Regions from separate parts of the Homo sapiens genome. Here region 1 is linked to region 2. Evidence: fine-mapped expression QTL. A gene starts in region 2. The other region holds a variant in brackets. All regions are shown on one strand. Distances are between the middles of the regions. Region 1 has its middle 25 kb from the start of PCNX1. Region 2 holds the start of PCNX1 (pecanex 1).

The links.
Region 1: its variant is fine-mapped to the expression of PCNX1 in whole blood (TOPMed, PIP above 0.99).

Annotation. Positions count from the first base shown.
Region 1 is chr14:70,881,253-70,884,163 of GRCh38, forward strand. No RefSeq gene overlaps it. Among named protein-coding and RNA genes, the nearest start is that of PCNX1, 25 kb to the right of the region's middle. The variant T/C (reference allele first, on the strand shown) is at 1,732.
Region 2 is chr14:70,906,266-70,909,176 of GRCh38, forward strand. It overlaps PCNX1 (pecanex 1), which reads left to right and starts at 1,194. Exons shown (of 36, transcript NM_014982.3): 1 at 1,194-1,738. The coding sequence starts at 1,586. RefSeq lists silencers at 1,097-1,286, 1,507-1,846, 2,007-2,346.

The sequences.
Region 1 (2,911 bases), 25 kb before region 2:
ACTCATACTTCCAGCCTCCAGACATGTCAGAAAATAAATTTTTGTTGTTTAAGCCACCCAATCCATAACATAGACTGGGTATTATGTCACCCAGTGCCATAACATGTTATGCTATGGCAGCCTAAGCTGACTTAGATAGTAACCATCATTATGTGACATAAAAGGAGCATAGTAAAGAGAGCACATAATTCTAGAAGGGGTGGAGGTTGGAGAGAAATTAAGTTGAGAAGAGGAGAACAAGATGTCAGGAAAGTCTTCCCATATGAGATACTTCTAGCAATTGAGTCTAGTCTAGAGGAACAGGCAGTTATTCTCTAAATGGTCTCTAAGAAGAGCTGGGGGCCTTAAAAACAAGGGACGTAGCAGTAATCTTTTTTATAGGCTGTGAATTGCTGTGGAACCTATAGCTTCAAACCTATTTGTTTTCCATGAACTCTATAATGATGTCATGGTCTATGCCTTCTTCATGTACAAACATCATACAGTTAACCCACCACCATGATAGCATGTACTTTCTGTTGTCGTGTTGTTTCCTAGTAAGGTGATTGATTTGCATTGCTTCAACCGGGCTCCTCTGATTGATCATTTTCTAAACAATGGATGCATTTACAGATGGTTGCCAGGTTCAGCAGAGGAGGCTGTAGCCATCAAATAGATAAAGTAGGCTCACCACATTCTGGAATTGAAACCGTGATCTTGGTTACATCAGAAGGTGCTCTAACCAATTGAACAAACCAGGCCTCGATGAAGCAACTGAGAGCTGGGGGATTCTTATGCAGAACAGAGCATTCATACTTCCGCTTCCATATGTACCACATATGTGTTCCTCTCAACTGGTTTTGTACATTTCCATTGCCTTAAATGTATTCACATAGCACTCTTTAAATACTCGAAGTATAATGAAGAAAAGAGAAGGAACTGAAATGGTTCCATTCCATTTCTCACTAGGAAGTTGATTCTGTGCACTCTATTTCTGACTATTTTCTATCAGCCTATCACTGTGGGATGTAGGAGGGAGGAACAGGACACAAAATGTGGCATAATTAAAAAAAGATGAAGAAGAAAATTAAAATCATTAACCATTAGTAATCATTTTTAATGTGCATCATTTTTAAAATTCGAGAATAACCCAAGGAGGTAGGCATAATGTTTAGACATGATTTACCAGTGAAAAGAAGCTTAGAGAAATGAAGTAACGGCTGGAAAGTCACAGCTAGAACTCAAAGTGAGAATTCCCACCCAAGAAATCTAACTCCAGATTCTACACTCCTAATCTCCGCTATGTTGCTTTCCTGAAATGAGGAAAGAATAAGAAAGGAGAAAATTAGTGACAGGAAAGAGAGAGCTGAATAAGAGGGGACAAAGAAAGGAGGAAGGAAATCAAGCAGTTTCTACACTCTGGAAAATAACGGAGCAGAATTAACAGAAGAGAACTACTTTCCTCAATGCTCATTCTACTGTTAAAAAAAAAATAAGCCAGGCAGTGCAGCACACGCCTATAATCCCAGTGACTAAGGAGGCTGATGTAGGAGGATTGCTTGAGCCCAGGAGTTTGAAGCTAACCTGGGCAACAGAGCAAGACCTTGTCTCTAAAAAAAATTTTTTTTAAGTAGCTGCATTGTCTTGTTTTTCTAACTTTGTACAGTGCTTAGAGTAACACTATCTAAACAGCATGTGTTCCATAAACCCTGTTGACTAACCGCTGGATTTGCACAAGAAACACCGGAAGAC[T/C]CTTAGGCAAGAGATATATTGTAAGATCCGTGACAATGAGATCTCTTGGATGACATGTTTTTCATTGTTTACTGCGTGTCTAAAATGAGAAGGTCCTAAGAGCCAACCTTTCATTGGAGTGGCCCCCATAAAACTGTCTGCTGTGTAAGGGGTGTTGGAGTGACTCTCCATCACAGGTTCTACTGCAGCTCTAGGGTGGGTCCTGAGTGATGTGAACCCCACCCCCATCCCCGTTGCTAGTGAATGGGTCTGGGGTAGGCAGGCCAAGGCCAATTGGGACCAATGAGTCATAAAGAGTTTTCTAAACACTTCCGGAAAATATGCTTTCTTACCCTTAAGAAAGAGTCACAGGAAGTTAGTAGGAGGTGAAAAGGGAAGCAATTAACCCAGCAACTACTGGAAGCCTTCCAAAACCCAGGGATCTTTCCCCAGAATGAAGTCAGCATTGGGGATAGCACAGCAGAGAGATGCAAAGAGCCACTGGATCCACCAGTCCTGAATCCTACCCAGCCTTTGACATCCTGCATTGGAGCCAATACATTTCTTTATGATAAAAGCTAGTTTGAGGTTGAGTCAGGATTTCTGTCCCATATTTTAAAGTATCCTACTGATGCAGCCTGGTAAACATAAAACATGGTAAACACATGTGGCCTGATTTTATTGGCAGCATGGTTAACTGGTTCAAGCTATGGTTCAAGCTATTCTTTCCCTTCTGTGATTATGACCATACGCTCTCATGAAAGGTGAAGCCTTTCTCCTGCCATGGCTACCTGGCTAAAAAAGCTCAGCCAGAGTCTCAATTCCTATAACCTCCTTCCCATCCATCCATTCATCCATCCATCTATCCATCCATCCATCCATCCATCCATCCATCCATCCAGCTGATGGATTAATAAATTTATATCAAGCACTTACTCTGAGCAAGGCATTTTGCTAGGCACTGTAAGGCCATCAAAAAGGAAAAAATAGGCCGGGCGCGGTGGCTCACGCTTATAATCCCACCACTTTGGGAGGCCGAGGTGGGTGGATCACCTGAGGTCAGGAGCTCGAGACAAGCCTGACCAATATGGTGAAACCCCGTCTCTACTAAAAATACAAAAATTAGCTGGGCTTGGTGCCGTGCACCTGTAGTCCCAGCTATTCGGGAGGCTGGGGCAGGAGAATTGCTTGAACCCAGGAG
Region 2 (2,911 bases):
TGAACTTCCAAAGTTCAGTGCATGCAGTTAGCATGACTGCTGGTTTTAGAGTTCTCAACCACTTATTGCTTATGAGCAATAAGTGGCCATAAGCATTTGGCCAATCACTTACTTGAGTTTACAGGTTTTCTCATCCATAAAATAACAATAGCTGCTATGCTGCCCTCAAAGGGTTGTCCTGAGGTCTGAATGGAATGGGTGTGATAGTGTCTGAGCAACTATAAAGTGGTATGGCACTGGGAGGTATTGTAACGGTTTTTCATTACTCTTCTTAAAATATCACCAGTTTCCTTTGGCTCTTGTTTCCCTCATTAATTATAGCAACTGTAATCTGGGAATACACAGTACTTTTATTGCCATAAAAGCCAAACTTCAATAAACTCAAATTTCAAACTTTTCTATAAAATTTTATTCAGTGAGATCAGACACGCCTTATAAACATTACACAGAGCCAAGAATGATTCCGTTTTTACAGCTATAAAAAGAGATCTACAAGACCCTATTGTAATTTGGGGTGGCGTCACGGTTAATCTTTTTCAACCCTGTTTAGATTGGCCCATTAATAAAAATGGCTGCTAGTTACAGCACATTTAAAAATACAATCACCGCGTACAAATGGTAACCTGTCCACTCCATACTTCCATGTCCTGTGCCGCTTCTATTAACTTGTCTTTGGAAGTAGTAAATTCTCCCAGTCTGGACGTGGCTATTTTTTCTCACACACGGGCCAACACAGTTCTTGCTCAACTTGGGTGCGTTTATGACTTTTCAACAGTGTCATCAGCCGTACCTAACTCTTCCAGGCCTTCAGTATCTCAGGTGTTAGCTTCAGTTGTTCCTAGGTCTTTCACAAATATCATAAATGACAGGCAGGACGCTTTTCTGGAGTCAAGATCTGTTAGTTTCGGAGTCAGAAAGACCCCGTTTAGAGACTCGTAGGCGAACTTGCCAGGGGGCCTACCAGGGGCAGAATGGGGTCCTCCGGACCAGCCAGCCGCGTCTCAGCCACCTCCGCAGCCCCCGGGGCCCTGAACCCCGGCCGCGTTGACGCGCGCTTCTCCCGGACGTCGGCAGGAGGCGCCCGCGGCGGACCAGGCGCGGCGCGCACCGTAGCCGGCCCAGGGGGCGGAGGGAGCGGAGAGGAGGAGCTGGAGGGGGCGCGGCTTCCTCTCGGTCGCTCCCTGGCGCCGGGCCTCTTTCTCTGCCTGGCCCAGGGCTGGCGGCCGGCGGGGGTCGCGGCGGCGGCAGTGGGGGCGCTGGCGGGCCGCGGGTGGCGGGGGCCGGGCCGCGGCTCCGGGTGTTAGGAGACAAGATGGCGGCGGCTCTCAGAAGGCCGGTCTCCTCCTCTCCGCCGTCCTCCGCCCCGCCGCTCGCCGCCTCCTCCTCTCGGGTCTCCTCCTCCTCGTTTGCTGCCTCCTCCTCCTCCTGCAGCAGCACCAGCGACCGCCGAAGCGCCGGCTCGCTCACCCGGAGCTCCGGAGGTGGATAGACGGGGCAGCTGCAGGCTCCGGCGACCGAGGCCGAGCTGGGGCCGGGGCGGGGACGGCGGCGGCGGCGGCGGCGACGGCGGCGGCGCCGGGTGGGGATGGGGTCGCAGACGCTGCAGATCCTCCGACAGGGGGTGTGGGCCGCGCTCAGCGGGGGCTGGTACTACGACCCGCACCAGGCCACCTTCGTGAACGCGCTGCACCTCTACCTGTGGCTCTTTCTGCTGGGCCTGCCCTTCACCCTCTACATGGTGAGTGTGGGGGCGGGGAGCGGGTGGCTCCTTCCCCGCGAGCCGGTGGGGAGATGCTGGGGTCGCGCCCTCTTCCTCTTCCACGGGGTCTCGTCCCCCGGGGGCCGCCACCCTCTCGGTGTGAGGCTCCCCGCCCCCACTGCGTGCTCCCACTCCTCTCTTCGGGGCTTTCCTGGTTTCGGAGGTGACACGAGCAACGAGCCCACGGCAACCCGCGCCGGCCGCCCCCGCCCGCTCACTGGGAAGCGGCAGCGTCCTAGGCCCCTTCTCGGGGTTCCCTCCTGCGGCCACTCGGCTAGGCCGTCCCCGCCGGGGCCCCCCGCCCGTGGGGCTGTGTGGCAGGCGCCGAGCGCTCTGCGGCTTTAGGGGACGCCGCATCCATCCTTGGCACGCTGGGTTCCTCGGGCGCCCGGCATCCGGCACTGCCCGCCCCCGCCGCGGCCCTCGTCCGGGGCTCCCGGGAGAGGCCGCCCGCCGCCTCGCCGCTAATCCGCGTGCGGAGCCCCGGGAGCGCGGGGGACCGTGCGGCTCTGCTCCGAGTGTGTGTGGGGGTCGTCCGGGCTCGTCCTCCAGGGGTCCTGGGTGGTGGCTGAAAACCCGGCTCGGAACCCTCCTGCCTCTAAAAAACCGTTGTTGTGCTTCGCAGCGGTTCTTCTCTGTTCGGCCCCGTGGCCGGTGGCCGTGGTGCTTCCTGGCCTCCCTGGGGGGAGGGAGCGGGGAGATAACGGGGAATCTGGCTGGCATTTCAGCAGATTTGTTTGGCTTGGTTCAAGGCCTTTGGCGGATAGGAGTAGGGAGAGAGAGTACTGCCTGTTGCTGAATTCGGTGCGATCAGCTTCTCTGAATCATCTGTGTTTTTAAAGCAACATTGAAAGTTGTTAAGCGCAGTTTCTAAAGCACAGGTTAGGGTGGGGCGTTAGGGAAACTCGTGTGGACAGAGATGTTACTTAAGGCTTCATATAAAATTTTAAAGTAGTCAGAGGGGAGGAAAGGATCTGAACTTTTTATTTTAGGAGAATTCCTTTGAATGTATTTCTGCTAACTTTGAGGTTCTTTGTGGAGCTAGAGACAGGGTGCTGAGTTAGAAAATCCCGGAGGACCACTATGAGAAGTGCAAAAGGTGAGGACACCCAATTCTTCCCTAAGTGAAGTTCAGTTTCACTAATTGGCAGG